2 separate regions of the Homo sapiens genome follow, and region 2 is linked to region 1. The links come from fine-mapping of genetic effects on gene expression. A gene starts in region 1. The other region holds a variant in brackets. All regions are shown on one strand. Distances are between the middles of the regions.

Region 1 (17,633 bases):
GAGAACAAATAAAGAGATGAGCACTCCTTCCTTCTTCCCCACCAACCCCACCAAGAGACCTGAGATGACGGCAAAACTCTATTAGGGGACAGGCCTTGGCTATAGGTGTAACATTTTTTGGCCTCTTAGTGTATGCCTCTGCTCTCTAAGCAGGAGATTTGGCCTTTTTTGGCTCGGCGGGATGGCTCCCAATGCTTCTTCATTTCCCTCCTTGCTCTAAGGCAATGGGGTCCAGACTTTTGCTGTGTATGAGATCCCCCAGCAAGCACAAATGCTGTTATAAGTTATCTCCTCAAATTAGCCTATTTTATGAGCTGTGATGCTGCTATCACAAGGAGCTCAGGTTCTATGGCTCCAGAACAAGGTGAATTGGCCTGAACCATCTTCTGAGGGACAGGGGCAGGAACAGGAGACAATGGGCACAAGCCCTGCACTGGGCCCTGAAAGTTTTCCTCAACGGAAGCCCCACCCGACAACTTCCTGTGCCCGGACTTCTGGCAGCTGTTGGCTCTGTCCGGCCTCGCCAACAACAGGTTTTTACACTTGGATATCACCTTTGTCATATTAGCATCAAGTCTTTGCCCAGAGCTCCCGGAATAATTCAGAGAAGTCAGGGAAGCCCAATTTCGGGTCAGGGCCTGTTCAATCTCTCCGCTGAACGGGCGTTTCTAAACCGAAAGACCTCACGGGACGGACGCTGTAATGGCGTAGGGTATTTTAAAACTATTTCCTCACGATGGCAGTCGTGCTCCAGATATGCCAACAAGTACCGCTCCCTAGTCCTTCTCCCGCCCTTTCTGTCCAAAAAAACACCAGCAAGAAAAAGGCGCCAGGAAACATGGCAGCCTTACTTTTGCCCAGTTTGGGACAATCTTATCACGCTGCTGCACTGTTGCTTTTGGTTTCCATTTGAAACGAAACTGAGGCCTTCTCTTTTTAAGAACTGCATTTCCAATAGGTTTAGCTTTCACAGTTGTGTTCTCGCTCACTCAGCATACATCTCCAGTATTTTCCCAAGTTATCACGTTGTCTGCTTCTGGATTCAAGACTCAAGAATCCAGGCCTAAGCAGAAAAAGAAAATGCTACAAACTCAAGGCCGGGAGGTTATCTCTAAGTACCAAACCACATGTCCTTGCCTGGCTCATCCATCTGTAAGGCTCCCAAGGAATTCTATATTTTCAGGATAGAGATCTAAGTCTTATGTGTTGACTTGTTGGCAGCCATTTGGCTGGAGTCTTAAGAGAAGCGCCCAAGTAGCTCCCATTCCAAGAGTTTTGTCTTGTGATTTCATTTACCATTTGAAGACACTTTCCGATGCCATTAAGTGGTCTCCAATTGCTTCCTACCACTTTATTGGATATGTAGGGACATGTGTGTGTGTGTGTGTGTGTGTGTGTGTGTATTTATCTTTATATCTGTATTTACCATTTATCTCTTAGAGATAAGCCTTAAAACCACTTCCTCATTAGTAATTAAGACATGATGTTTGCCAAGGATTCAGAAATAACCATGCACTGATAAAGAGTAAAGCGCTGTCATAAAATTGATTAAGACCACTGATAACTTTTTGGATCATGTCCTCTTACTCCTTTCAATACACACAGAGTTTTATATTTATGTTCATATGTGACAATGAATTTATATTAAAATTGGTTGTTTGTACATGATGGTTTGCCTAGGAGATTGCCACTCCTGATTCTCAGACAGTTTGGCCACATTACATAAAATTTTTGTCTTCATGTTTAGTAATCAAAACACTGCAAAAAAATGTTTCTTGGCTGGGCGCAGTGGCTCACGCCTGTAATCCTAGCACTTTGGGAGGCCGAGGCGGGCTGATTACCTGAGGTCGGGAGTTCAAGACCAGCCTGGCCAACATGGTGAAATCCCGTCTCTACTAAAAATACAAAAAATTAGCCCGGTGCAGTGGCGCGCGCCTGTAATCCCAGCTACTCTGGAGGCTGAGGCAGAAGAACCACTTGAACCCAGGAGGCCGGAAGTTGCCGTGAGCTGAGATCACGCCACTGCACTCCAGCCTGGGCTACAGAACGAGACTTCGTCTCAAAAAACAAACAAACAAACAAACAAAAATGTTTCTTATTGCTCCATTTATTATAGTTTAAATATGGCATATATAATATATAATATTGCTATACATATATGTGCACATTTATTTCACCTTAATTATAACTTGACTTATACTGGGCATAGTTTTATACAAAGTCTTCTGCACCAACTTACATAAATTGCATGTTTCCATATATCAACATCTATTTTCCCTAGCTGGAAATTTCTTTATACTTGATTGTACAAGGAGGTTTCTCTTCGAAGGAATTATAAAGGTAACATCTGCTGTTGGAAATCTGCTCATATTTTAAGAAATTACAAAGCCAAAAATAAATGGTATCTCAATGAAAACTAGAAGAAATAACTTTTAAAATGTCTTTGCCATACATTCTCTTATCTTCCCTATCCATATATAATGTACATTTTTTAACCTAAAATCCCAGTTACCTTGTATGTCAGACATGCTTTTCTCAGGACAGTTTGAGGTCTTTGGAAACATCATTAACTACTCCTTGGAATATGCAATATTTTTAAGGTTGCTTCTCATATTTTTGCATTTCCTAAAATTAAGCATACCTGTTTACAAAATAACCAGACACATTAGCCTTGTACAAAGAAGTGCAGTGAGGCCACAAGTAATGCCCACTGAAGCAGATAAGGATTTTTAAAATGTGGGTGTCTTGAATACACCTGTTTTCTGTGATCAGTTAAATATATAAATATATTAGGTCTCAAATAGCCAACAAATCAAGTTTTCACCAACAATTTCTTCTGCACATATTTGTTCTGGGTTGACTCTCAAATTACAAATATCTTATCAGCTTCTTGAAAAATCTCTTAGAATACACAATCTATGAAGAACAAATGGAAACACTTTATCACAAATCCCACTTTTTTGAGGCATCCACTATTAGCAGCTTGATGAGTATATTGGTTTAAACATTAAAAAAATGATATATAACTGTTCAATAAGAACTGATGTTATTCAGTGAAATAAATTTAATCTATATCTCATTAATATACTCCCCACATTCCTCAGCACAATGCTAGGCGCGCGCGCGCGCGCACACACACACACACACACACACACACACACACACACACACACTTCCATTTCTTTTCTTCAAATCCATCCTCATTGGTCCCACTACACATAGAATTTGGTGCCCTGAATTCTCAATTCAACACTAGAAAATGAGTACTCTCCAATATCATTAACTTTTCTTGAGGAACAAGATAGTTTTTTATGGTTAAATCTCATAGCATTCTTTTACTGTTGATCAAACCGTAAGAATTATATGCATCTGGAAAAAAATCAGTAAGTGGAACAAATATATAGCAGTAAAGAAATGATACTCTTAAGAAGTTTAATAGATATTCCATTGATGTTTGTTATATTGCATTCTGCTCTTTTTATTATATAATTGTACATGTGTGGGCACATGTGGACAGGTTGTCAGGATTTGGTGACTTTTTACTTACATGATATATGAGGAATATCCTTGCATGATACATGAGGAATATCCTTGCAACTTGAGTTGCTTCTTTCTATCATAGTTTTCTCAGGTCTCACATCACATAAGTCTCATCATATGTCGTGAAATATGCTTCAGAAAGCTGGATTTTCTGTTAAGTAAAATTTGGAAATAGAATTTCAGAATAGAGCCTTTAAATCTTGCATGTGTGTAGAAGTGTGTATGTTTTAAAGAAAAATACATCTTGTAATATGTTGTTTTCCTAATTATATATTGAGATGATGCTGGTTTCTTGATTTTTAAAAAACTTGCAAATGTAAGCTTTTCTCATTTTCAACATTTCAAGGCTTTGGACAAGTGTAAGTTAAAACGTGAAGGCAAGTCATTAGAAACATCACTGTAGAAAATTACACACTGTTAGTTGCTTGACTGGGGAACTTTCCAGATAACTTCCTTTCTGCCTATTTGCTTTTCTGAACCAATAGGTTTATGTGTTCAACTTGAATTAATAACATATGTAATTAAGAGAGAAAGAAAGACTTCATCTTTCATTTCTATTTCCTTGCTATTAGCCAACCAGAATGGTTTGATTCCCGTTACAACATTTCACATTTTCTTCCCTAAATCAGAGGTGTGGTCATCTCCCCTATTGAGGACTTGGCGAATGGATTTCAATCTTTCCAAAGGCTTAAAAAGACTACCTACTATAGCTGAACTTACTGTAGTTGAACTTGGACAATGGATGTTTTGCCCCCTCCCCACCGCCATCCTTGCAAAAGAAATCTCAGCGATCCTCTTTGTCCTCTCCTTTCTACTTTCCTGTGGGAGTTTGGCTGTGCGATCACTTTCAAGAGGTAGTCTCTGGACAAAGGGTATGCTCATGTGAAAGGTTAAATGATTTGGCCTGTTGACCTTCAAAGAGGTGTACCAATTAACAGTGCTTCTCACCTGGTAGGACCTTGTCCAATTCTACAAATCATTACACAAACACTGACATCAATGGATTCCTTTTCAAAGGCTTGCTCGGGGTTATGATGAAGATTTAAGGGCATTATGGAAGAATACAGTGAACTGCAATTTACTTCAGTACTGGTGAATTTGAGACTGTGATAATAGAGGTGCCTTATTCCTTTGCCATCTTTCCTGCTGAGTGGTTTTCTTTTTAACTACATTTTGAAACAGCTTTTGATCTGAGCTGACTGTCAATGATTGAGTGGTATTGAGAGTTGGCAATAGTTATAATCTCCCATTCCTGGTCACGGTGTCACGTTTGAATTCCTGGGACTCAGCAAGTTGCTGCTGCTTTAGGCCTCTATCCACTCTCTGACCAGATAGTCTCTTAATGTAAACCAAAATGTGTGGGAATACAAAATTCCTGACCCTGAGGAATTCTAGGGCTGGGGCTACCTCTCTGTCACTCACAATTCTAAGTTAAGTTATGGTGCACTGTCTCCACACATCTGGCTTTCCTAGTCTAGCATATGGTCAAGTCAAACTGTGACTCAACAGCAGGCAGCCTAACCCATCTGATGCAGGGTTTCTCTCAGTCACCTGCTTAGCTGAAGTAGGCTGAAAAGGTCAGAGGTCACCTTACACTTTCATAAGGTATTTGAGACCATTGAGACATGCTTTCTCAAATGTTTTCAAACCCTTCTTGGCTCATGTCAACCTATAACATCCTCAAGGACAGCTAGACCAAGGCATGAATAGCAGGAAAGTCAATTTCCCCAGGGACCCTATGGTCTTTGTAGTAGTTGCTAAAAACTTCCTAGTAGATGTTATAGCTCCACCCTGGGCAAGTAGAATTCAGGTGGTGACCATATGTTACAGCAGTGCATGAGAATAACATTCCTTTCTCTTCTGTAAGTGGTCAGCCACTGAATCCATCACTGATACACGAGAAAACTCTCACATGCAGTCAATCTTACAAAATTTTTGCCTTTTCTTGCTATGCTATGGGCAAGTGTCCTGAGGGTCCTGATGTGCTCAGCTTTTAGAGGGCTTACAAGGAATCTTCATTAGAAAAAGGCTAAGAAGCAGGCACAGAGAACAATACTTGCTAATCTGAATGAACAGTTAGGTCCCAAGTCTCAATGGCCTCATCTTCCTTAGGGGAAGGCCAATAGCTAAAGAACTCATTTCTGTTCCTTTAATAGAGCTAAGAGTAGGTTTCTCTAAATAGGTAGGCCTTCACACTGGGCCCTAGAAAAAGTGCTGCAAAGCCATGGTAGCTGTTACCTCCTGGCTTCAGAAAATACTTCCAGGTCTTCTGGTTGTGTATATCTGCACTCCTATTGATGTTCAAGGATTTATTGGCTTGGCCAAGTGACACACACTGCCTTCTCCTCAGGTCTTCCTTGCTCTAGGCAATGGGGGCACCAGACTTTTAGGTATCCTTGAGACCCCCAGAAAGCACGCTGGCTGCTGTTAGATATCATCTGGAATGAGATGTTTCATCTGCACCCTAACATTGCTTACACCTTGTGCCAACCCCCTACCTCATTGTTCAAAGGGCATGGCCAGAGGATATGTGGCCAGAAGTCCCCCCAAATAGGATCTGAGCCATTTGTTTTAGCCCCACCCTCACTGGGTAGATATCTAAGCCCCAATACTTCCTATACTCCACCTGCCTAGTAGCTGTCCCTTCAGTCCTCCCCCTGACCCCCCACTTATCAGCTTCTCCCCCAGGATCCTGCCTTTGTCCAGAGCTCCTGGAAGGCTTCAGATTTAAAGTGAAGGGGACCTACTTAGGGCTAGGGTCCACTCAACCTCACAAAAGGCCCAACATTTCTCAGTTGCTAAAACTTGGGGGGGCTCTAACAACTTTGGGTTTGTGTTTTGTCAAACTACATCCTCTTGATGGCAGTATTGCTCTGGAAAAGCTGATTAGCCTTGCCTGGGCACCCCACCCCCAGAGCCCTTCTCCTCTCACCCATTCAATCTGAAAAAAGCTACCAAGACAAAGGAGACAGGAAACAAAGCTGCCTTGCTATTGGCCCTGTTTGGGGAAAATCTGCTCTTTCGAATTTACTTTTGCTCCTGGTTTCCCTCTGAACTCAGACTGAAGCCTATACCACCCAGTTTCATCAGCCATACTTTGTTTAAAGAATCCCATTTCCGATAGCATTAGGAGATATACCTAATGCTAAATGACGAGTTAATGGGTGCAGCACACCAGCATGGCACATGTATACATATGTAACTAACCTGCTCATTGTGCACATGTACCCTAAAACTTAAAGTATAATAATAATAAAATTTAAAAAAACAAAAAAATGCCCATTTCCACTCTACCATAGCTTTGTAGGTCTGCTCTTCTTCATTCAACCTTGATCCCCAACAATTTCCCAAGTTATCTGCTTCAGTGGGAAATTCTTAGGGACCTAGGGCTAAGAAAGTGAAGAAAATAATGGAAATAACAGCCTAGAGAAGAACAAATCTAGGCACCAGGCCATGTGACTTGTTTCACTGCCAGGTTCCCTGGGAGTCCTCCATTTTCTGACCTGGGCACTAGGTCTTGTGTATTGAGTTGGGGGCAGCCATGTCAGAACCCTAATAGGAGGGTCCAGATAGATCTCAAGGCTGAATTCCATACAATATCCCTCTTGGGGTGACACACACACTCCAAACTTACAAAATTCCAGTAGAAAGGAACATGATTTTGTCTTATGGTTCCATCATTCAACATTAAAACACAAGCAAGTTCCCATGCACATCATTATTTGACTTTTAATGGCTTCCTATGGCTTTATTATATATGTGTGTGCCACTGCTTAAGCTTAGGAATCAGTCTTATGGTGTTTCCTCATAAGTAATTAAGACATGGTGCTTGTAAAGAATTTAGAAAATAACCATGTGCTGATCAAGAACAAAAGCACTGTCATAAAATCTTGTATTAAACACTAATAGCCTTTTGCATATTTACTCCCATTATTTCAACATGCACAGAGGTCTATATTTACGGTAATACACTACAATAAGCATATTTAAATTAAATTTATATATGCATCATGTTTTAGATGCAAACTTTTCACTGCTCATTCCTGGGTAACTGAAATTGTCATGAAATATTTGCAAGACCTGGATTTTAGATAATAAAATATTTGCAATGAGCTTCTTGATTGACTAATTCATTAAAGAATGTTAGGTTCTCAATTTTTAAAAAATTTATACACAGGACATAATACCTATAATGCCACCACTCAAGTATCTTAATTTTGATACCTGCCTTACCTAATCATTAGTATGCTGACTATATATATATATATATATACATGCTAACATTGGAACAGGCACTATGTGCTTATGCCTCAGAACATTAGGGTTTCTTTTGTTTATATTTTTCAAAACTTATACCAAAATTTTATCTTAAAATTTTATGTAAAATCTATAAAGTTGAAACGCATACTCACTCTAACACTGACCATGATTATGCATGATATGCATAATGCATATATATGTATAAGCATTAGATAGATAGGTCCAAGTTACCTGGTTACAGGCCTAGAGGGAAAAGAAAATGATTGCACCTATTATATATATATTTACTTCTCTTTATTTATTTATTTTTATTCAGCCTCTGGGAGCATGGACTATCCTTTTCTTTAAAGACAATTGAATGCAAACTGGATACAGTTTTGCACAAATTCTTCAACACCACCTTATACCATTTGCATACATGAATGACAATGTATATTTGAGTGCTTGGATTTTTTTTGTATCTTACTCTAGAAGACCTTTCTATTTCAAGAAATTACAAAAGTTACACCCACTGTTGGCACCGTTTAGATTTTAAGAAATTATAAGTAGAAAGTAAACGGTACTTCAATCACAACAAGAAATAGCCACTTAAAAATATCCTTGCCATACATTCTTATATCTTCACTTTGCACAAATAATATACACTTAAAAAATGTTCAAATTCTCTTGTACTTTGAATGCTAAAACAAGTTTTCCTCATTTGTAACTTGAATGCTCTTCAAATCTCATTAAGTATTCTTTAGAATAATGACAGGTTTTAAAATCTTGCCACATGTTTTTGCATTTCTAGAAATAATCATGCTTCTTTACAATGTACCTGCTATAACAGCCATGTATGGAGAAGTGAAGCGAGGTCACAGGTAATGCCACCTCCAGCAGACAAGAACTTTTAAAATGTGGGTTCATCTTCAATCCTCTTCACTCGGTTTTGGTTCTCATCTGTTTGTGCGTGGTCAGCTCTCCTAGCAAAAGTGCTAACCCTTCTTGGTTTGGCGGGCTGATCCCATTTCTCTTCAAGGTCCTCCTAGCTGCAAGCAATTTGGTTGCACCTGGGACCTCCAGCAAGCACATGGCATCCTTTTATAAGCAACCTGGTATTGTCTGGTTCTCTGCAGTGACTCTGCTACCACAAAGGTCCTAGGCCCCAGAGCCTGAAGGCACCACGTGTCAGCCTTTCCCAGACTCTCAGGGGCGGGGAGAGAGACGAATACCCACAGGCCCAGTACTTCGTTGGTTGGTGGCTTCCTCCAGTCCCGCCCATACTGGGAGAATACCAAGACCCCACCCTACAACTTCCTGGGCCTGGACTTCCTGCCAGAGGCCGACTTAGTCTTCCCTCCCCACGGGCCAGTTCCTACACCTGGACCTCACTCTGTCCAGAGCTTCAGGTAGGCCTCAGGAGGTGGAACTAAGATCCAGCTCATGGTCCGAGCCTGCTCAGCCTCTAACAGAATGGAACTTTCCAATATAAGCCCTCTAAGGGATGGGGCTTTTTCCAGAAATTTCCTCACGATGGCAGTGTTGCTCCTGGAATTCTATCCAATACTGCCCCCAAGCCCTCTTCTCCCGCCCGTCTGGTATGAAAAAAAAATGTGACCAACAGATTAAGGCACCAGGAAATATGGCTGACTTGAGAAACTCGCTCATACTATTGTGATTTTGCTTTTGGTTTTTCATCTGAAATCAAACTGGCGCCTAAACCTACACTCTCATCAGGGGTCTTTTCAGTTCAAGAACTCAATTTCCACTTACCTAGTCTTCACAGTTCTGCTTTTTCTTCACCTAACTTTTTCTCATGGTACTAAATTGTCTTGGTGTATCAGGGGTCAAACCTCAGGGATCCAGGCCTAGAGGGAAAAGCAAATGGTTGCATCTAAGGGCTTGGAGAAGAGCAAATCCATGTTGTTCTTGCCTGACTCACTTCCCAGGTTTCCCGGGAGTCCTACTCAATTTCTGGCCTAGGCACTAGGCCTGTGTGTTGAGGGAGAAGCAGTTGTCTGGAACCCTAAGCTAAGTGTCTAGATGGTTCTCAAGACTGCGTGCTATACAGTGCCCATTTGGAAGGGTACACAAACTCAAATATGTATAAATTCCAGTCAGAGGAGACTGATACAGTCTCATAGTCAAAATAATTTAAAATCGGAACACAGGCATGTTCCTATGTTCTTATATGACTGTCAATGGTTTCCTGTGACTTTAGTGTGTATATGCTTATCACTTAGGGGTCAATCTTATGGTATTTTATCTTACGTAATTAAGACATGGTGCTTGCAAAGGATTTGCAAAGGATTCAGAAAAGAACCATGTGCTGACCAAGAGTAAAGCACTGTCATAAACAGTACCTATTAGTAATACTGATAAACATCTGGATTATGTTTTGTGAACTAAAAAGTGTCTGAGACAGGTCTCAATAGTTTCAGAAATTTATTTTGCAAGTTTAAGTACACGCATGCCTGGGAGATAGGTCCATGCCTTTCTTCAAAGATGATTTTGAGGGCTTCAATATTTAAAGGGGAAAGGGCAGATACTGGGGAAAGGGGAAGAAATTTTGAAAAGATGTGGGTAGATAAGAGGCAAAGGGTAGCATTCTTTTGAGTCTTTGATCAGCCCTTCATAGGCGAGATGAGGGTAGAGGAATAGTCACGTACACATTCATCTAGCTCAGTGAATCTGCATTTTTTACATAGGATAAAATAAACACAGGGCAGAGGAAGCAATCAGACATGCATTTGTCTCAAGTGAGCGGAGGGAAGACTTTGAGTTCTGTCTTTTGTTCCATACCTGTGAGGATAAGCCAAAATTTACATTGTCAGGGTGAAATTCAACAGAACTGTTTCAGGGTAAAAATCTTGGGGCTCACAAGGAATTTCCTAGTGGGCAAATTGTGAGGGAGATATGTAGCTTTTTGTTTTTGCTTTGTTCAATCATTGTAGCCATCTTATTTAGGAATAAAATGGGAGGCAGGTTTGCCTGACGCAGTTCCCAGCTTGACGTTTCCCTTTGGCTTAGTGATTTTGGGGCCCTGAGATTTATTTTCCTTTCACAGTTTCAACATACACATGCAAACTCATATACTCATGCACTCATTTCAATATATACACATAAACATTTATATTTCGTGTCATACACAATAGTAAGTTTACATTAAAATGAGGTTTATTTGTATGTTATGGTTTGGAGTATACTTTCACTTCTGTTTCCTGGGCAGTTTGTCATTATCATGAAAAATTTGCAAGACCTGAATTTTTAGTAAATGAAACATTAACCAAGAGCTTCTTGATTGCTACATTCAATAACAATATGGTCTCTGAAGACATGTTCACTTCATAAAACACTTATTTAACAACTGGAAATTTAATTCCTATGATGTCTCCTCTCAGGTATCATGATTTGAAGAGCTTCTAATCTTTATTATGCTAACATGTGTATACTCTAAAACAAATATTGAATCACAAGTATAACATGCGTGCATCAGAAAATATAGGATATTCCTTCCTTCTCAAAATTTTAACCTACAATTAAATCTAAAATTTCATCTTATTTTATTTATTTATTATTATATTTTTAGAGACTGGGTCTGGCAAGTCTATGCAATCATGGCTCACTGTAGCCTTGACCTCCAGGCTCAAGCAATCCTCCCACCTCAGCCTCTGGAGTAGCTAGGACCACAGGCACACACCACCACACCCAGCTATTTTTTTCTTTTTTATATTTTTTTGTAGAGAAGGGGTCTCCTTATGTTACCCAGACTGATCTCTAACTTGTAGGCTCAAGCGATCTTCCCAATTCAGCCTCCCAAAGTGCTGGGATTATAGGCATGAGCCACTGCACCTGGCCTAATCTTATTTTATTACTAAAAAAAATTAACAACAGATTGCATTACTGTATAAATAAAGTCTGTGTCCTCATCTCTTTAGCACTGTGACTGTGACCCAAACACGTACTCCATCAAAGGTTCAAGGTGAATGCATTGACATATTTTTATATTCATCTATAATCTTTTCTTAATGTTTCCCTTTAAATTTATTTATTTCCTAAAAATTAGGTCTTGCAAATTTTTCGTAATGACAAATTGCCAAGGAAATAGAAGTGAAAATATTATCCAAATCATGATATATGAATAAATCCCATATGAATGTAAACTTATTATTATATATGAAGCTAAATATCAAAGTTTCTATGTGTATACATATACACATGTACACATATACATACATATACAAACACACATTAATATACGGACAAAGAGAGTGAAATTTAAGTGCATTGTTACTATAATAATCATAATTAAAAATATACACTTTTTAGGGAGGCTGAGGCAGGAGAATCGTTTGAACCTGGGAGGCAGAGGTTGCAGTGAGCCAAGATCACACCACTGCACGCTAGCCCTGGAGACAGAGTGAGACTCCGTCTCAAAAAATATATATACTTTTTAAACATAAGTACACATATAGATGGATATGGAGTCATGCCTAATTTAATGACAGGGATACATTCTGAGAAGTGCATTGTTAGTTGATTTCATCATTGTGCAAACATCATAGTGTACTTACACAAATCTAGATAGTATAGCCTACTACACTCCTAGGTTGCAGAATATAGCCCATTGCTCCTAGGCTACAAAGTGGTATAGCATGTTGTTATACTGAATACTGTAGGCAATAGTAACAATGGTAAGTATTTGTGTATCTAAACATAGAAAAGGTACAATAAAAATACGATATTATAATATTATGTATGACATAACCATCATATATGCAGTCAGTCATTGACCTAAAGATCATTATACAGGGCATGACTGTATACTAATGTGTAGTTTATCTATCTTTAAACATAATTGAATGAATACCGAAGGTAGTTTTGAACAGAAACATCATCATTATCTCATACAATTTCCATGTTCCCATATACATATATGTACTTGGAGAACTTGAAATCTTTTTATTCTACCCTGGAAAGAGCCTTATTATCCAGAAAATTTAAAAAGCAATAGTTGCTGTTGGCAAACTGTTCAGATATTGAGAAATCATGAAGCCAAAAATAAATGATAGTTCAATCCCAACAAGAATAAAGACTTTTAAAATGTCATTCACCCAGACTGGGCAACATGGTGAAACCTGTCTCTACAAAAAAATACAAAAATTATCCTGGCAAGGTGGAGTGTGTCTGTAGTCCCAGCTACTTGGGAAACTGAGGTGCGAAGATCACCTGAGCCCAGGGAGGTGGAGACTTCACTGAGCCAAGATCGTGCCATAGCACTCCAGCCAGGGTGACAGAGCGGGACTCTGTCTCCAAAATAAATAAAAGAGGCCGGGCATGGTGGCTCACGCCTGTAATCCCAGCAATTTGGAAGGCCGAGGCGGGCGGATCATGAGGTCAGGAGTTGAAGACCAGCCTCACCAACATGGTGAAACCCTGTCTCTACTAAAAATTCAAAAATTAGCTGGACGTGGTGGCACATGCCTGTAATCCCAGCTACTCAGAAGGCTGAGGCAGGAGAATCGCTTGAACCCGGGAGGCAGAGGTTGCAGTGCGCCAAGATCGCGCCATTGCACTCCAGCCTGGGTGACAGAGCAAGACTCTGTCTCAAAAATAAATAATAAATAAATAAATAAATAAACAAAATGTCATTCTCATCTCTTATGTACATATAATAACATTAAAAATCATATTCAAATTCCTTTGTACCTTCAGTGTTCAGATACATTTTCTGTACATATTGTAGCTAGAGTACTTTCCAAACTTCATTAAATATTCTTTGAAATACTGATTATATTTTAGAGAGTAGCCTCTTACTTTTGGGATTTCACAAATCAGATGTATTTCTAAATAATGTGTTCAGGTACAACATCCATTTTTAAAGAAGCATAGCAAAATCATAGGTAATGCCACCTCAAGAGGACAAGGACCTGCAAAATATGGTTGTATTTTCAACCATATTTCACAGATATATGTTGTATACATTCAGAGATATAGATTCCTTAGGACTCTCTCATGTGTTCAACACAGCAAGTTTTCACCAATAATTTCTTTTGCACTTTTTTTTTTTTTTTTTTTTGAGACAGAGTCTCACTCTGTTGCCCAGGCTGGAGTGCAATGGCGCGATGTCAGCTCACTGCAACCTCCGCCTCCCAGGTTCAAGTGATTCTCCTGCCTCAGTCTCCCGAGTAGCTGGGATTACAGGCATGTGCCACCACGTCCGGCTAATTTTTGTATTTTTAGTAGAGAAAGGGTTTTGTCATGTTGGCCAGGCTGGCCTCAAACCCCTGATCTCGGGTGATCCGCCCACCTCGGCCTCCCAAAGTGCTAGGATTACAGTCGTGAGCCACTGCACACAGCCTTCTGCACATATTTATTCTGGATTTGTTATTGAATTACAAAGATAATAGAAGCATTATGAAAAATTTCATAGAGTGCACGAATCAATGAAAGACCTAAGGAAATACTTTATCCCAAATCAATCTATCCCAAGGGAACCACTATTAGCAGCTTAATGGGTACATGTATTCAAATGTTGTAAATAAGGTGTACAACCACTCATGAGAGCTGACATTATTTAACTAAATAAATATATCCTACTGCACATCAATAAACTCCCCTATTTGCTGACAAGATGCTTGGAGCATACATACATTCATCCAGGGAGGAATATACCATTTATTTTCTTCAATTACATTCTAGTTAAAATGTAGGTGGAGTTTTGTGTCATTGTTTCTTCATTCAACATTGAATAATGGATACTGAATAGCATATCTCTTCATGATAGTACTTTATTTTTAATCTCATACGATTGCTTTGTTGTTAAGTTCTTAAGGATAATAGATGCATCTGGCAAAGAAATGACAAATGAGTAATCGTAAAACAGGAAAGAGAGGATACTCTGAATCACACAAACTCAATTGATATTTCAATCTAGTACATTCCACCTTTTCTTCTATATACACTTTTGCATGGGAGTGTACAGGGGTTTTTTGGTATGAATTTAAATGGACATGACCTATATATGGAATTCTCTTTTTAATTTATTTTTCTTTTTTATGCTTTACTCAGGTCTTTTATAGCGAGGCCACTTACAATGCCATTAAGCATGCCAAAGAAGACTGGATTTTATGTTAAGTAATTATTTGCCAAAAGCTTTTCTTTCCATGACCATTAAAAGTAGGACATTAATCATTTCAATGTATATATAGAAGTGTGCCTATTCTTATGGAAAATAGAATCTGAAATAAAACAATATTGTATAACTTGTACCTTTATTAAATGTATACTAGGACCTTTTTTGGGTTTTCTGTAAATTTCAGAATCAACCCTTGCTCGTTTTCAACATTTCAATTTTTAAGACATAAATAGTTAAAACCTGTAGACTCTAACTTGTATTTTTGAGATACAAACTATACTAGTGTTTGATTAGAAGCCTTCCAGAAACTGTACTTAGTACATATTCACCCTCTAGAATCCGTATATGTTTATGGTTCTGTGTAACAGTAGAGAAAAACAGTCTTTCATAAGAGTAATCCTCATGATTTTGTTTTACACATTAGTTTCTTAGGGATACCAAAAGCATAGCCAACCAAAGAAAAAACTCGACAAACCAGATTTCATCAAGTTTTAAAAAAGTTGTTTCACAAATGATACCATCAAGAAAGAAAGAAAAAACTCACAGAATGGGAGATAATGTTTTCCAATCATATATTTGGTAAGGGACTTGTATCCAGAATATAAAAAACTCTTACCACTCAGTCATAAAAATATAACTCTTTTAAAAATGGACAAATGATCTGAATAGATATTTATCCAAAGAAGATATGTATATGGCTAACAGCATGTGAAAAGATGGTCAACCTCATTAGCTATTAGAGAAATGCAAATGAAAAACACAGTGAGGTACTACTTCACAGCCCCTAGGTTGTCTATATTTTAAAAAGACAGATAATAACAAGTGTCAGTAAGGATATGCATAAGCTGCAAGCTTCATATATGGCTTGTGGAAATATCACATGGTACAGTCACTTTAGAAGTAGTCTGGCAGTTCCCCAAAAGTTTGAAGATTCTATCATCATATGACTAATCAATTCCAAACCTATTTATCTACACAAGAGAAATGAAAACATGTTCACACAAAAAGTAGAAACAACTTAAATGTCCATCAACTGATGAATATATATAAAAATGTGGTATATCCATACAATGGACTGTTATTCAACCATATTGAAGAATGAATTATTGATACATTGTACAACATGAAAAATCCCTCAAAACATGCTAAGTGAAAAAAACCAGACACAAAAGACCATATCTTGTAGGATTACAATTATATATAGTTTCCAGAATAGGCAAATCCATAGACACAGAAAGTAGATTAGTGTTTGCCAGGGACTAGAGGAAGCTGAGAATGAGAACTGCTAGTAGGCATATTTCTTTTTGGAGTGATGAAAATATTCTAAAATTGATTATGGTAATGATTGCACAATTCTGTGAATATATTGAAAACCACCACATTGTACATTTTAAATTGGTGGAATTTATAGTGTGTGAATTCTATCTCAATAAAGCTGTTTTTAAAAGTTTCAAAAATTAACAGGTTAATTCACATTTATAAAATTAATAAGAAAAAGCATATAATCATCTGAAATTGTGTAGAAAAAGTATTTGACAAACATAAACACCAATCCTGATTTTAAAAAACTCTCACCAAACTAGAAATTGAAGAAAATATATCTTCAATATGGTAAAAATATACAACTAATGTCATACTTAACACTGAAAAAGTCAACACTGTTTTTAAGACCTAGAGCAACGTGAGGAATTCGTCTCTCACCTCTTCTATTCAACGTCATACCAGATTTTCTAAGAAGTGCAATTAGGCAAAAAAAAAAAAAAAAAAAAAAAAGAAAAAAAGATTACAGTTTGGAAAGAAAGAAGTAAAAGTGCTTTCACAGATGACAGTATTGTTTACATAGAATGATTCTTCAAAAACACTTCTAAAGCTGCTAAAGTCCATATCTTACAGACAAGGTATGATTGGTGTTGCTTTTGTATCTATTCAAAAAAACTGTGTCTTTTATGTGGAATGTTTAACCATTAACAGCTAATGTATTTACTGATAGGTTTTAATTTTGGGCTACAATTTTATAGTTTACATTGTTTGTCCTCATTAATTTGTATTCTTCCATTTCCCCTTTCCTTCCTTTCAAGTATTAGAACACTTTATCTTTTAGAATTCTATTATAATATGTCTGTTGGCCTTTTGGCTATACCACTTTGTGTTATTTTTTAGTGGTTATTCTTGCGATTGCAATATGCATCCTTAACTTTTTATAATCTTCTCAGAGTTGATATTTTACCGCCTCATACAGAATGTAAAATCCTTATAACAATATACATACTTTTACTATTCCTCGGTGTCCTTTATACTATTATTGTCATATGTAATTTATGTACATACATTATAAACACAGCAAAATGATGTTAGAACTTTTGCTTTAAGCATTCAAGTATATTTTAAAGGAACTAAGTGAAAATTTTTTTTGTACATTCTCAGACACTGAACATTTCTGATGTTCTTTACTCTGGAACATGTTCTGGCTCTGGAAGATCTGTATTTTCCCCTGATGTAGTTTTCTTCAACCTGAAGAATGTCCTATAGCATTTATTTTATTGCATGCCTACCAGTGACAAAGAATCTTAGTTGTCTTTTGTCTGAAAACATCTATTTCACCTTCATCTGTGAAGATATTTTCAAGGATGGAGAACTCTGGGTTGATTTTTTTTTTCCCATCAGCACTTTCAAGAGGACGTGACACTGTCTTGTAGCCTCCATAGTCACTGATGAG
Region 2 (14,829 bases), 61 kb before region 1:
CTAATTGTACCTTCATCCACCCAGTTTATCACCTGAAGGAGACAATTTGATGCCATGGAACTTGCTGGACCTGTAACAGTGTGAAGTAAATCATACCCAGATAGTCTCAGTGAGGAGTATATTTAATTTCTGAAAGAACAAGATTCGTGAGGAGCATGGGTGGTTTAGGCCTCATTTTGTTTTCAGATGGAAAGAAAATAGCAAAAATTCAACAGTAAGACAAGGTCGTACCAAACTGGACAAATCTCCTGGTGGCCATGATCCGTGGGGCCTTTGTCTCTGGGTAGCATTTTTTCAGACAGAAAAGGCGGGAGAAGAAAGCTCCTAGACAGAGCTTCCAAGAAAATATGAAGCACTACTGCCACCGTGAGGAAATAGTTTGAAGACAGAATCCGCCATTACAGTATTCTTCCCTGGAAGCCTCGCTGTGGGGGAAGGTCTAATCTATGCTGAGGTGGAAGAGGATTGGGCTCCAGGCTAGGTCTTGTTGCCTTCTCCTCTAAGGTCTTAAGAGAGGCCTGGACATTGGCGGTATCTTGGTGTAGAACCTGGAGAGTGAGGGGCTTGGAGTGAAGCAGCAGCTGCCAGGCAGTCCTGGCACAGGAATTTCCGGGGCAGGGCCTCTATTTCCCCAGTTGTTTGCTGGACAACAGGAACCCACTCAAACACACATGCAGGCTCTTGTGGGCATCTGTCTCCTGTTCCTGCCCCTTGGAGCAAGAGTTGGCAGGCTTTCATGTGCTTGCATCTTGCTACAGGTCTTTGGGTCTCTGGTAGCATCAGTACCGTGTACAAGGAACAGGATTTTACCAAGCGACATTCACAGTATTTACTTTCCTTCACTCTCCAGGTTCTATACCAAGACACTACCAATGTCCAGGTCTTTTTTTTTTTTTGACGGAGTCTCACTGTGTTGCCTAGGCTGGAGTGCAATGGCGAGATCTCGGCTCACTGCAACCTCCCCCTCCCGGGTTCAAGCGATTCTCAGCTTCCTGAGTAGCTGGGATTACAGGCGCCTGCCACCACATCCGACTAATTTTTGTATTTTTAGTAGAGATGGGGTTTTACCATGCTGGCCAGGCTGGTCCTAAACTCCCGACCTCAGACGATCCGCCCGCCTCAGCCTCCCAAAGTGTGGTCTTTGAGGATAGGGCAAGGATGAGCAGCATGGAGCTCAAGCCTCTTCCCCCTCCCCACAGGCCAGACCTTCTCCAACAGGTGGAAGGACTGTCTTCAGGGGAAGGACATTGACATGGCTTAGGCATAGGGCGTAGGGCGTTGCTTAACTATGTCCTAACGGTGGCAGTAGTGCTCTAGATGTGCTAACAGGTGTCGTGGAGCCTTCTTCTCCCGCCCTTCTTGTCTGAAAAAACGCCACCCAAAGACAAAGGCACAAGGAAACATGGCTGCCTTGCTTTTTGCCCAGTTTGGAGTCATCTGGTCTTACTGTGGCAATTTTGCTTTTGTTTTCCATCTGAAATCAAACCAAGGCCGAAACCACCCACCCTCATCAGAAATCTTATTTGTTCAGACATTTAAAATCCTCCTAACCTAGTCTATATGATTACGATTTACCTCAGATTTATAGGTCCAGTACTTTCCATGGCATCAAACTGTCTCCCTCGGGGGATAAATTTGGGGATGAAAGCACAGCGATAAAATTGCTTGAGGCTCCGAGACCACCAGGATTTACAAATCCTGGTGGTCTCTATTCTGGCTCCCCTTCCAGACAACCAGGGAGTTCTTCATGTTTTAGCTCATGTGTTGCATTGCAGACAACAATTTGGCATGAACCATAGAGGAGGGACCAGATAGCTGTCATTACTGCATGCCATATGCGCTCCACATGGCATGATACTCATACTACATATCTTCAGTTCCTATCAAGGTTATTCACAGTTTCATCTCATGGTCTCGTCATTTAACATCAAAACTCGGCATGTTCCCATGACACTACATAGTCTTCAAGTATTTCCTGAGACTTTATGGGGTGTGTCTGTTTGTGTGTGTGTGTGTGTGCATGTGTATTTTATAATTTGTCTTTTAGATATAAGTCTTACAGTATTCTCCCACTAGTTAATTAAAGAATAATGCTTGACAAAGATTGAGAAAAATCAATGTACTAATAAAGATGGAAAGCACTACAATACAATTTGTCTAGGCAATAAATAAATAAATTTGGATTATTTCCATGCACTCCCAGGCTTATTAGGAAGAGGAAATTCCCGCCTAATAAAAGAATATATTTCCATGCATATATTCCCGCCTAATAAATTTTGGTCAGACTGGTTGATCTCAAAAACCCTGTCTCCTGATAAGATGTTATCAATGACAATGGTGCCTGAAACTTCATTAGCAATTTTAATTTCCCCTCGGTCCTGTGATCTCTCCCTGCCTCCACTTGCCTTGTGATATTCTACTACCTTGTAAAGTACTTGATGTCTGTGACCCACACCTATTCGCACACTCCCTCCCCTTTTGAAAATCCCTAATAAAAACTTGCTGGTTTTTGCAGCCTGTGGGGCATCTCAGAACCTACCGACATGTGATGTCTTCCCCAGAAGCCCAGCTTTAAAATTTCTCTCTTTTGTACTCTGTCCCTTTATTTCTCAAGCTGGCCGACGCTTAAGGAAAATAGAAAAGAACCTACGTGAATATCGGGGCTGGTTCCCCGATATATACACATCATTTTTTTTCTTTTTTGAGACTAAAACTCTCTCTGTCTCCCAGCAGGAGTGAAATGGCGAGATCTCGGCTCATTGCAACCTCCAGTTCAAGCGATTCTCCTGCCTCAGCCTCCTGAATAGCTGGGATTACAAGTGCATGCCACTAGGCCTGGTTACTTGGTTTTTTTTGTTTGTTGGTTTTGTTTTTTTTTTTTTTTGAGACGGAGTCTCGCTCTGTCACCCAAGCTGGAGTGCAGTGATGTGATCTCTGCTCAGTGCAACCTCCGTCTCCCAGGTTCAAGTGATTCTCCTCCCTCAGCCTTCTGAGTAGCTGGGACTAAAAGCATATGCCACCTGCCCGGCTAATTTTTGTGTTTTTAGTAGAGACAGAGTTTCACCATGTTAGCCAGAATGGTCTCCATCTCCCAACCTCGTGATCTGCCCGCCTAGGCCTCCCAAAGTGCTGGGATTACAGGCGTGAGCCACCTGGACCATCCCCAATTGTTTTGTATTTTTAGTAGACACAGGATTTCACCATGTTGGCCAGGCTGTTCTCCAACTCCTCACCGCAAGTGATCCAATCACCCTGGCCTCCCAAAGTGCTGGGATTACAGGTGTGAGCCACCACGCCCGGCTATATATACATTCCTAATTTCATGCAAATAACAAATCTGTATTGAAATTGGGTCACACTCTACACTGTGGTTTGGAGCAGATCAAGTGTGTATTTTAACAAAGCTTTCAGGAGGATGAATTCATTTGAATATCATAAATGGTAAATGTTTTCAACATTGCAAGCCTTCAGTGTAAATGAAGGTAACTCTGAAAAATATATGCTCAGAAACATTCCTTTAGAAATGTAGACACCATTCATTTTTTGTTTAAATTTTTACAGATGCATCACAACGTGCGTATTGGCTCTCTAGAATACATACATGACTATATGTTTGGTTTAAGGTTATGACATGTTAGAAGTAGAGTAAAATGCACTGGGCGCGGTGGCTCATGCCTGTAATCCCAGCACTTTGAGAGGCCGAGGCGGGCGGATCATGAGGTCAGGAGATCGAGACCTTCCTGGCTAACACGGTGAAACCTCGTCTCTACTAAAAATACAAAAAATTAGCCAGACGTGGTGGCTGGCGTCTGTAGTCCCAGCTACTCAGGAGGCTGAGGCAGGAGAATGGTGTGAACCCAGGAAGCAGGGCTTGCAGTGAGCCGAGATTGCGCCACTGCACTCCAGCCTGGGTGAAAGAGCGAGACTCCACCTCAAAAAAAAAAAAAAAAAAAAGAGTAGAGTAAAATACACTTTACTTTGTTATTTATTATTTATCTTATGGTGTGGTAGGTTTAATCCACAAGGTTCAACAATTTGCTATTCTCCCTAAATCAGAGGCAAGGAATGGCTGTTTACGAGGATACAGAGAATGCAATTAAGATTTTATGATGGCTAAAGGGACTACCTGGTGCAAATGAATGACATGTATCCAACCTAAATGGGAATGATAGGCTCATTGCCCCTCCACACTATCTTCCATTGCAGAATAAACCAATCAACCTCCTTGTCACTACCACTGGTACTTGGCTAGGTGTGATTTCCTTGCCAGGCTTCTATCCACTGCCCAGGCACACAGCCTCTATTAAAGATAGTTAGCAAGGGGTGAATAAAAGATCACTTAGCCTAAAGAATTCTAGGTTTGGGGACACCAGCATTTCTACCTTCAGATATGAGACACTGTCCCATAGGTAGGTCTGTATTCTTCCATGAAAATGGTCAGGTCAAACTATTCCTCCATAGGAGGTAGTTTAGCAGATGTCTAAGTCTACTTTAGGTGAAATACTCTGGGGAGGTAAGATATCAAGGGTCATGGAGAAATGCTTCCCAGAGAGTCTCCAAGACACTTGTGCATGCCAATAGCATTTATGTATGCAGATCATCATTCAACTAGACAAAGTCAAAGATGTCAAAAAAGCTAGGTTACCCTAGAATGCCTTACCCTGGAATGCCTGCCTGAATCCTCAGAGGCCAGGAGAGGTCATACCTGAACAAGCTCTTGAAGCACTGTAATGTCACAGTGCAGAACCAGACTAACATTAATTCCTTTCATTAAGAATTCAGATACTAAAATAATAAATTCTGAGGAAGAATGTCATGAGGATCAAGTCACCCATACACTTTTAGTCACCATTTTGATTCTCAATTATGAGTCATAAAGTATCTAGAGGTCTCCACACCAAAGGTTGGATATCTTCATTAGGAAATAGATTTGAAGCTGCTACAGAAAATACTAGCTAGGATGCAGTAGATAATGATTTGCTCAGGCCTAAACAATGCCATACTTACCAAGGACATCGAACAGAAAAGAGCCACCTATCTGCCCTCCTTGAGAGAACTGAGATGACATCGGCGTCCTATTATGACAAAAGACTTTCTCCTGAACCTATAACGTCACAGAAGCTGCTGGCTTGTGCGCTCAGATAATTGCTTAGGCCTTCCATTGCATTTTTGGCCTTCATCCTCTTTAGCATATCAGCTCTCCTAAAAGATGATCTGGCCCACATAGGCATCTCAGTGTATCCTTACTGCTCTACAGAGGTCCTTCTAGCTATAGGCAATGGTGGTTAGAATTTTAGTGTATTGAGGACCATGTGAGTGACGCTGACTTCAGATAGATGGTTCCTGGAATTGGCCTGTCATTGCCAGCCAACACTGCTGCTATAAATGTCACAGCCCCACAACACAAGGACAACCAGGTTGCCTAAAGCTCCCAAGGGCATATTCATAACATAAATGCCCCAAGGGTCTGTACTTGGCTGTATCATTTTCTAGCCTTGTCCCCACTATGAGAAAACAGGCCCTGTCCTCTACTTCCTGTGCCAAAACTTCCTGGAAGCAGCTGGCTCAGTCCTGCTCCCTCACTCAGCAGATACTTCACGGAGACTTTGCATTTGTTCATTGCTTCTGCCAGGCCTCAGAGAAAAGG[A/G]TAGGAAGATCAACTTGTGTCTCGGGTCTGTTCAGCCTTCACTGGCTTTTCCTTCAATTGCTAGGGCTCACATGGAGGAAACGCTCACGGCTTTGGATGCTACGAAACTGTTTCCGCACGATGGCAGTATTGTACGGGAGAAGCCAACTGACTTTGCTCTAGGCGCTATTCTCCCGCCCATCACATTTCAAAAAAAGGCCAAGAAGAGACAAAGACACCAGAAACTAGAACTACTTAGCAGTTTGCTCAATTTGTGTAAACTTATTCCACTCTTAGCATTTTGCTTTTGTTTTCCATTGGATATTAAACCGAGGTGTGATCCACTCACCCTCATCAATCATCTCCTCTTTTCATGAACTCAGTATCTGCACAACCAATCTTCTCATTTATACTCTTCTTCACTCAGTATTATATCTGCTGTGTTTTCTTACATCAAATTGTCTTATAGTACTGGGGCAGACCTCAGGGATCCATGCCTAAGGAAACAACAAACAAACAAAGAAATGTTAACACCTAAGGTCTTGGAGAAGAGCAAATCTAGGCACCAGGCCATGTGGTTCATTTGTTTTTTTTTTTGAGACAGAGTCTTGCTCTGTTGCCCAGGCTGGAGTGCAGTGGCGCTATCTCGGCTCACTGTAAGCTCCGCCTCCCGGGTTCACGCCATTCTCCTGCCTCAGCCTCCTGAGTAGCAGGGACTACAGGCGCCCGCCACCACGACCGGCTAATTTTTTTTTTTTTTTTTTTTTTTTTTTTTTTTTTTTTTTTAGTAGAGACGGGGTTTCACCGCATTAGCCAGGATGGTCTGGATCTCCTGACCTCCTGATCCGACTGCCTCGGCCTCCCAAAGTGCTAGGATTACAGGCGTGAACCACCGAGCCCGGCCAGGCCATGTGGTTCTTGTCCTGACTCCCTACCCAGGTTCCCTAGGAGTTCCATTTCATGTTCTGATCCAGGCATTGGGCCTTATATGTTGAGTGGGAGGCTGCCATTTAGTGGAGCTCTAAGATAAGGGACCAGGTAGTTCTCAAGCTTGACAGAGACACAGAACCCGATTCGAATGGACACAAACACAGGAATGACTATAAATTTTAATCAGATGGATCACAGGATTTTGTCTCATGGTTTCATTATTTAACGTTGGAACACAAACATTTTCCTGTGTCATTAAATGGCCATGGCTTAAGACTGCCCTATAACTTTGCTGTGTATATGTGTTACTGTTTTCCAGTTAGGATTCAGTCCTATATTTTCTCATTAGTAACAAAAAGGTGGAATTTGCAAAGAAGTAAAAAAAAAAAACCCATGTGCTGATCAAGAGAAAAGCAGTCTCATAAAACTGTATATTAAACACTGATACCCTTTTCCATATTTATTCCATTTTTCAATACATAGATAAAAAGTTCTATATATAGTCAACACAATGAATTTACATTTAAATTGGATTTAGCTATGCACTGCATTTTAGTATGAATATTCCATAGTATGAATGAAGATTTTCATTCTAAAATTTGATTTCTGACCAGTTTTTGACATTGTCATATAAAATTTGCAATTTCTGAATTTTGGACAATAAAATATTTGCAAAGAACTATGTGATTGGACTAGTCATTAAGAATTAAGATCTCACCTTGCTTTTTTAATCTATAAAATCTATTTATACATACATAAACACATATATAAATATATATATTTTACATAGTTATGCCTCTGAAAATTAGGATTTTAAAATTATTCTTGAATTTTTATCTCTAATTCTTACCTTCAAATTTTATCTTTAAAATCTCAAAAGAAAGAAAACAAAATTCAATAAATGATAATTGAAATAGGCACATCTCATATTCAGTCACTTAGATGTGAACCCCAGTAAAACTTTAAGATGGATGTATTCACACCACTCACATGAAGCTATAATGTTTCATTAATGTCTCTGTTTATGTAACTATGAATTAAAGATATGAATTTATTGGTCAAAAATATCATATTCAAATGCATGCTCAGTATAACACTGACCATGATATAAAATATATGGCATTGGCCAGGCGTGGTGGCTCACAACTCTAATCCTGGCACTCTTGGAGGCTGAGGCAGGAGGATCACTTGAGCCTGAGAGTTCAAGACCAATTTAGTAATTAGCAATTTTGGCAATGTAGCGAGTCCCTGTCTCTAAAAAAAAAAAAAAAAAAAAAAAATAGCCAGGCATGGTGTCATGCACCTGTAGTCCCAGCTACTCAGGAAGTGGAGGTGAAAGGATCACCTGAGTCCAGGGAGGTTGAGGCTGCACTGAGCCATGATCCTGCCACTGCACTCCAGTCTGGGCAACAGAGTCTGATCCTGTGTAAAAAAAACATATATATGGTATTTAAACATTTGTATATGCATATGAACAGATATGAATACACACAGAGTACCGCACACATTTTACTTTCAATATAACTGGATTCATACTATTTGAAATTTGGTCCAAAATCCTCAGCATCACCTTATAATCTTTGAATATATCCATATCAATATATACTTCTGAGTGCTTGAGTTTTTTTATATTTTACTCTAGAAGAATTTTAAGAATTATAAGCAGAAAACATATGGTAGGTCAAACACAGTGAGAAGAAATAATCACTTTTAAAATGTTTGGGCTACGTATTATGATTTGTTCCTTTGCACATATAATATGTACATTTATAAACTAATGTTCAAATTCCCCTGTAGTATAATTGTTAAAACAAGTTGTTAAAACCCTGGACCCATGAAGCAGTCATTCCCCATGCCACTCTATGCCGAGCCCCTGGCAAACACTCATCTGCTTTCCCTCACTACTGATCATGACAATAAGGGGCCTTTTTCATTTTGCTTTTTTCACTTAGCATGTTTTCAGATTTCATCCATGTTGTAACTGATAACTTGAGTACTTTTCAAATATAATTAGTTATTCCTGGAAATAATGATAGGTTTAAAAATATTGGCACTTTTTAAAACTGTGTTGGTATAATTCATGTAACATATAATTAACCATTAAAATGTGTGAAATTCAGCGGCATTTAGTACATTCACAATGCAGTGCAAGCACTAACTCTGTGTAGTGGCAAATAATTTTCATTACCACAAAAGAAAACCCTGGACCCATGAAGCAGTCATTCCCCATGCCACTCTATGCCGAGCCCCTGGCAAACACTCATCTGCTTTCCCTCACTACTGATCATCACAATAAGGGGCCTTTTTCATTTTGCTTTTTTCACTTAGCATGTTTTCAGATTTCATCCATGTTGTAATATATGTCAGTACTTCATTTCTTTTTGTAGCTGAATAATATCCATATGTATATATCACATTTTGTTTATCCATTCATCAAGTGATTGATGTTTGCTTGTGTTCACCTTTTGGGTATTGTTAATAAATATATACAGTGAGTATATACATGTACTTTTTTGAGTATTTGTTTTCAATTGTTTGCGGAGTATACTTAGGAGTAGAGCTGCTAGGTCATACGGTTATTTCTATGTTTAAATTTTTGAAGGACTGATAAACTTTTCCATAGCAGATGCGCAATTTAGCATACCCACCTTCACTGCAGAAGGGTTCCAATTTCTCCGCCTCCCCACCCATATTTGTTCTTTTTAAGTAATATCCATTCTAGTGGGTGTTAAGTGGTATCATGAAGTGGTTCTGATTTACATTTCTGAAAACACTAATAATGGAAGTATGTTTTCATGTAATTGTTGGTCATTTGTGTATCTTCTTTGGAGAATTGTCTATTTAAGACCTTTGCCTATTCTTAAAATTGATGCATTATAGTTGTACATATTTATGGGGTACACATGGTATTTTGATGTATGCATAAAATGTGTGATAACCAAAAAAGGAAAACTGGGATACTCATTCCCTACTGCATTTATTATTTGTGTTCGGGAACATTTCAAATGTGTTTTATCTATTTGGAAATAACCATTAAATTATTGTCAACTATAGATGTCCTAACTGTGCTGTTGAACACTAGAACTTACTCCTTCTGTCTAACTGTATTTTTGTAGCCATTAACAAACCTGTCTTCATTCCCCTCTCTTCCTAACTTCTGGTACCCACCATTCTACTCTATACATACCATGAGATGGATTCCTTTAGCTCCTACATATGAGTGAGGACATGTGATAATTTGTCTTTCTGTATCTGGCTTATTTCACTTAACATAGTGTCCTAAAGTTCCATTCATGTTGCTGCAGATGACAGAATTCCATTCTTTTTTCTGGCTAAATAATCTTCCATTTTATATGTATGCCACAGTTTCTTAATCCATTCATCCATTAATGAACAGTTAGGTTGATTCCATATCTTGACTACTGTGAATAATGCTGCAATAAACATGAGAATGCATATATATATATATATAGTACTGATTTCCCAGCAGTGGGATTGCTACATCATATGGTAATTCTATTTTTAGTATTTTTGGGAAACTCCATCCTGTGTCTCATAGAGGCTGTATTAATGTACATTGCAGGCAACATTATACAAGCATTCCTCTTTCTCTGCTTACTAGCCAACACCTGTTACTCTCTGTCTTTTTTGTAAGAGTCATTTGAGCTGGGGAAATACGGTACCCCACTGTAGTTTTGATTTACATTTCCCTGATGATTAGTGATGTTGAGCATTTTTTCATGTATCCGTTAGCCATTTGTGTGCCTTTCTTTCAGAAATGTCTATTCAGATCATTTGCCCATTTGTAAATCAGATATATTTGTTTTTTTTCTATTGAGCTGAGCTTTTTTAAGTTTGCAAATATATTCTCTCTTACTGTAGGTTGTCTCCTCACTTTATTGTTTTCTTTGCTGGGCAGAAGCGTTCTAGCTTGATTTACTCTCATTTGTCCATTTTTGCTTTGATTGCCAGTGCTTTTTGAGGTCTCCCACAAAAAAATCATTGCCCAAAATGATGTCTTAAAGCATTTCCGCAGTCTCTTCTTCTGGTACTTTCATATTTTCGGGTCTTTTCTTATATTTGTTGAGCCTTGTTCTGTGGCCTAACACATGCTCTATACTGGAGCGTGTTCCATGTGCTGACTGATGACAAGAATGTATATTCTACAGCAATTGGATGAAACATTTTGTAAATGTCAGTTAAGTTCATTTGGTCTAGAGTACAGTTTAATTCCAATGTTTCTTTGTCTGGATAAGCTGTCCATTACTGAAAGTGGGGTACTGAAGTCTCCCACTATTGTTGTACACCTGTCTATCTCTCCGTTTAGATCTCCAAATGTTTGCCTTATCTATTTGTGTGTTCCAGTGTTGGGTACGTACATATTTTAAATTGTTATATCCTCTTACTGAATTGGCATCTTCATTTTTTGTTTTGTTTTGTTTTTTTTGTTTGTTTGTTTTTTGAGTCTGGCTCTGTCGCCCAGGCTGGAGTGCAGTGGCGCGATCTCCGCTCACTGCAAGCTCCCCCTCCCAGGTTATGCCATTCTCCTGCCTCAGCCTCTGGAGCAGCTGGGACTACGGGCGCCTGCCACCACGCCCGGCTAATTTTTGTATTTTTAGTAGAGACGGGATTTCACCGTGTTGGCCAGGAAGGTCTCGATCTGCTAGCCTCATGATCCGTCCGCCTCGGCCTCCCAAAGTGTTGGGATTACAGGCGTGAGCCACCGCGCCCGGCCGGCATCTTTATTGTTATACAGTGACCTTCTTTGTCTCTCTCTACAGTTTTTGACTTTAATCTAATTTATATAAGTCTAGCCTTTCCTGTTCTTTTTCCATTCCTGTTCATTTTCATGTTGTTGCTGATGTCCCGCTCTGGTTTGAGATCTTCTTTGCCTGAGTAAAAGAGAAGTCCCCAGATTTAATGCACTGGGGTTGCTAGCTTCAACTCCACTTTCAGTCTCAGACTACCCCCTCAGGGATTTTTCCTCCTACAGGCAGTCAGGATGCCTCCTAGGGATTGAGGCAAGAATAGGATCCCTGCAAAGGACACCAAAATGGGAGAGAAGCTAGCTCTCTGCCTTGATCTCACATTTTACAGAGGAAACTGTGAACCAAGGGGTACTTTTCTTTTTTTCTTTTCTTCCTTTTTTTTGGTGGGGGGGGGAGCAGGGGGATGGAATCTCACTCTGTCACCCAGGCTGGAGTGCAGTGGCGCAATCTGGGCTCACTGCAACATCTGCCTCCCAGGTTCAAGTAATTCTCCTGTCTCAGCTTCCCGAGTTGCTGGGATTATAGGGGCACACCACCACGCCCGGCTAATTTTTGTATTTTTAGTAGAGACGGGGTTTCACCATATTGGTCAGTCTGGTCTCAAACTCCTGACCTCAGGTGATCCACCTGCCTCGGCCTACCAAAGTGCTGGGATTATAGGCGTGAGCCACCGCGCCCAGTCAAGGGGGACTTTTCTACATGGTGCCTAGCAGCCTTGGGTTGGGGAGTCATGGAGAGAGAAGTCCATTAGTCTTTCTAGCTGCTCATACTTTTTCACTTCCTTATAGCCCCATGGATAGTCACAGTCTCAATGTTCAGTTCTGGAATATTGCTTCTAGTAATCTTGTCTCTACACAGCTGTTTTTACTTTTCTTTGAGGTAAAGTCAGATCACTTCTGCTATACCATGTTGGTGATATCACTCTCCCTTTGCCTATTTTTTAAAAATTGGGTTATTTGTCTGTTTATTGTTGAGTTTTAAGAGTTATTTGTTTTTATTGGATATTAGAAGTTTTTAGATAATTGATTTGGAAATATTTCCTCCCATTCTGTAAGTTGGCTTTTCAAGTTCTGAATTGTGTACTTTGATGCAAAAAGTTTTTAATTTCAGGGAAGTCCAATTTATTTTTTCTTTTGTCATTGCTGCTTTTGGTGGTATAGCTAATAAATCATTGCCAAATCTAAAGTTGTGAAGATGTATCCCTATAGTTTCCCTGAAGGTTTTATAGCTTTAGCTCTTATATTTAGAAATTTGATATATTTTGAGTTAATTTTTGCATATAATGTGAGGTAGAGGTCTAAATTCATCCTTTTGCATGTAGATAACCAGTTGTCTAAGTACTATTTGTTAAAGACTCTATTAACTACTCATAAAATGACCTTAATAACTTTGTCACAAATGAATTGACCACAGTGTCTGAGTTTATTTCCAGGCTCTCCATCTTTTCCATTAATCACTGTGTGTATTCTTATTTGATTATCACACTGCTTTGATTACTCCAGCTTTCCTAATAAGTTTTGAAATCCAGAAGTGTGAGTCTTCCACCTTGGTTTTTCTTATTCAGAGTTTACATTGGTTATTCAGATCTCTTGCAATTCAATAGGATCTTTAGGATTTGTGTTCCTTTTTTACAAAAAAAATGCTCATTGGATAACAATAAGGATTACATTAAATCTATAGATCTCTATGGGTAGTATTGCCACGTTAAAAATATTTAGTCTTCAGACCCATTACCACAGGATGTTCTTTATTAAAATTTAGGTTATCTTTAACTTCTCCATTATTTTGTGATTTTCAGTGTACAAGACTTTCATCTATTTAGTTAATTATTGTCCTGAAATTATGATTCATTTTGATGCTATTGTAAATGGAATTGCTTTCTTAATTGAATTTTCAGATTATTCATTGCTAGTGTACACAACTACTACTGATTTTTCCAAGTTAATGTTCTGTCCTGCAGTTGCTTGCTGGATCTTGTTCACTACCTCTAATACTGTTTTTCTGGGTTTTTGAGCTTTTTTTTTTTTTTTTGACTGGAGTCTTGCTCTGTCGCCCAGACTGGAGTACAATGGCACGATTCCGGCTCACTGCAACCTCTGCCTCCTGGGTTCAAACGATTCTCCCACCTCAGCCTCCCGAGTAGCTGGAATTACAGGCACCCGCCATCATGCCCGGGTAATTTTTGTATTTTTGTAGAGACGGGGTTTCACCATGTTGGCCAGGCTGGTCTTGAACTCCTGATCTTAGGTGATTCACATGCCTCAGCCTCCCGAAGTGCTGGGATTACAGGTGCGAGTCACTGCGCCTGGCAGCATTTTTTATAAGATCACTGTATTTGTGAAGAGAAATAATTTCCATTTTTTCTTTTCAACTGGGATATTTTTTATATATCTTCATTGCCTGATGACCCCAGCTAGATTTTAAGTATAATGTTTAAGAGAAGCGGCAAAAGTGGGCATTTTTCTCCTGTTCATGATTTTAGGAGCAAAGTTTTCAGTCTACCTCTTGACTATATTATTAGCTGTAGGTTTTAATAAATGCCCCATATATCGTGCTGAGAAAATGATCTTCTAATTACATATTATAGATTGTTTTGAGTTGCTTTTCTGGAGAGATGGACTACAGAAAGTGTCTACTGCACCATTGTCATTGATGTCACTTTTGCTACCTGTTTTTGAATTTGTAGGAACACTCATCCTTCTTCAAAATGTGCCTGACAAAATAGTCACATATGAAAAAGTAGTTACAGATAGATAGGCAATGAGCACGGCAGGAAAGGGCTCTCCCTGACCCAGTAGGAATGTCACATGATGGTTCGGCAATGATCACATTGCCCCTCTAAAAATGATAATTTGGTAGCCTGGGAGAGACAATCTCCTGATGATCCACATCTGTTAATATTAAAAGTACGAATTGAATGCAGGCCACAGGGAGAAGCAGCTTCTTGGGCATGCGTATTAAGACACAAAATGGCGAAATATGATGTTCCGGGTACATGCCACCAGAAAAAAGAAAAAAGCCTCAGATGGGCATGTGTATAACTCCCTAAACACACTGCACAGTGCTCAATTCCAAAGGGTAAGGAGGGCACTGCGCATGCGGAAAGCTCACCCTAAAGGAAGAATCATGAGCAAGAGGTAAGCCTATAAGGTCCCATGATCAAGGTTAAAAGGTCTTTTTGTTCTCTTGGCCATTCAGGCACCCACTTGGATCTCTTCCAAGGGTTCTTTCTTTCCTTTCTTTCCTGTTCTAAAGCCTGTTAAATAAACTTCCACTCCTGCTCTGAATCTTGCCTCAGTCTCTTTTCCTGCTTTATGCTCCTCAGTGAAGTTCTTTCTTCTGAGGCGCCAGGACTGAAGTTCCTCTGGACCTATATGGATATGCCGCCTGTTACTCGGGGTAACTCGGTTCACTGCCACCGCTAACAAAGTGAGATCATGGGTAATGCTACCTCCCACAGACAAGCACTTTTAAAATGTGGATTAATTTTCAATCCTTTTCACT

The links. PIP is the estimated chance that this variant, and not a neighbour inherited with it, causes the effect.
Region 2: its variant is fine-mapped to the expression of FIRRE in whole blood (TOPMed, PIP 0.99).

Annotation. Positions count from the first base shown.
Region 1 is chrX:131,821,675-131,839,307 of GRCh38, forward strand. It overlaps FIRRE (firre intergenic repeating RNA element), which reads right to left and starts at 8,969. Exons shown (of 10, transcript NR_152876.1): 1 at 8,618-8,969; 2 at 3,548-3,691. RefSeq lists enhancers at 195-284, 445-684, 4,388-4,888.
Region 2 is chrX:131,762,574-131,777,402 of GRCh38, forward strand. FIRRE (firre intergenic repeating RNA element) reads right to left here. Exons shown (of 10, transcript NR_152876.1): 5 at 5,976-6,123. Among named protein-coding and RNA genes, the nearest start is that of FIRRE, 61 kb to the right of the region's middle. RefSeq lists enhancers at 423-702, 1,755-1,804, 5,668-5,962. The variant A/G (reference allele first, on the strand shown) is at 5,648.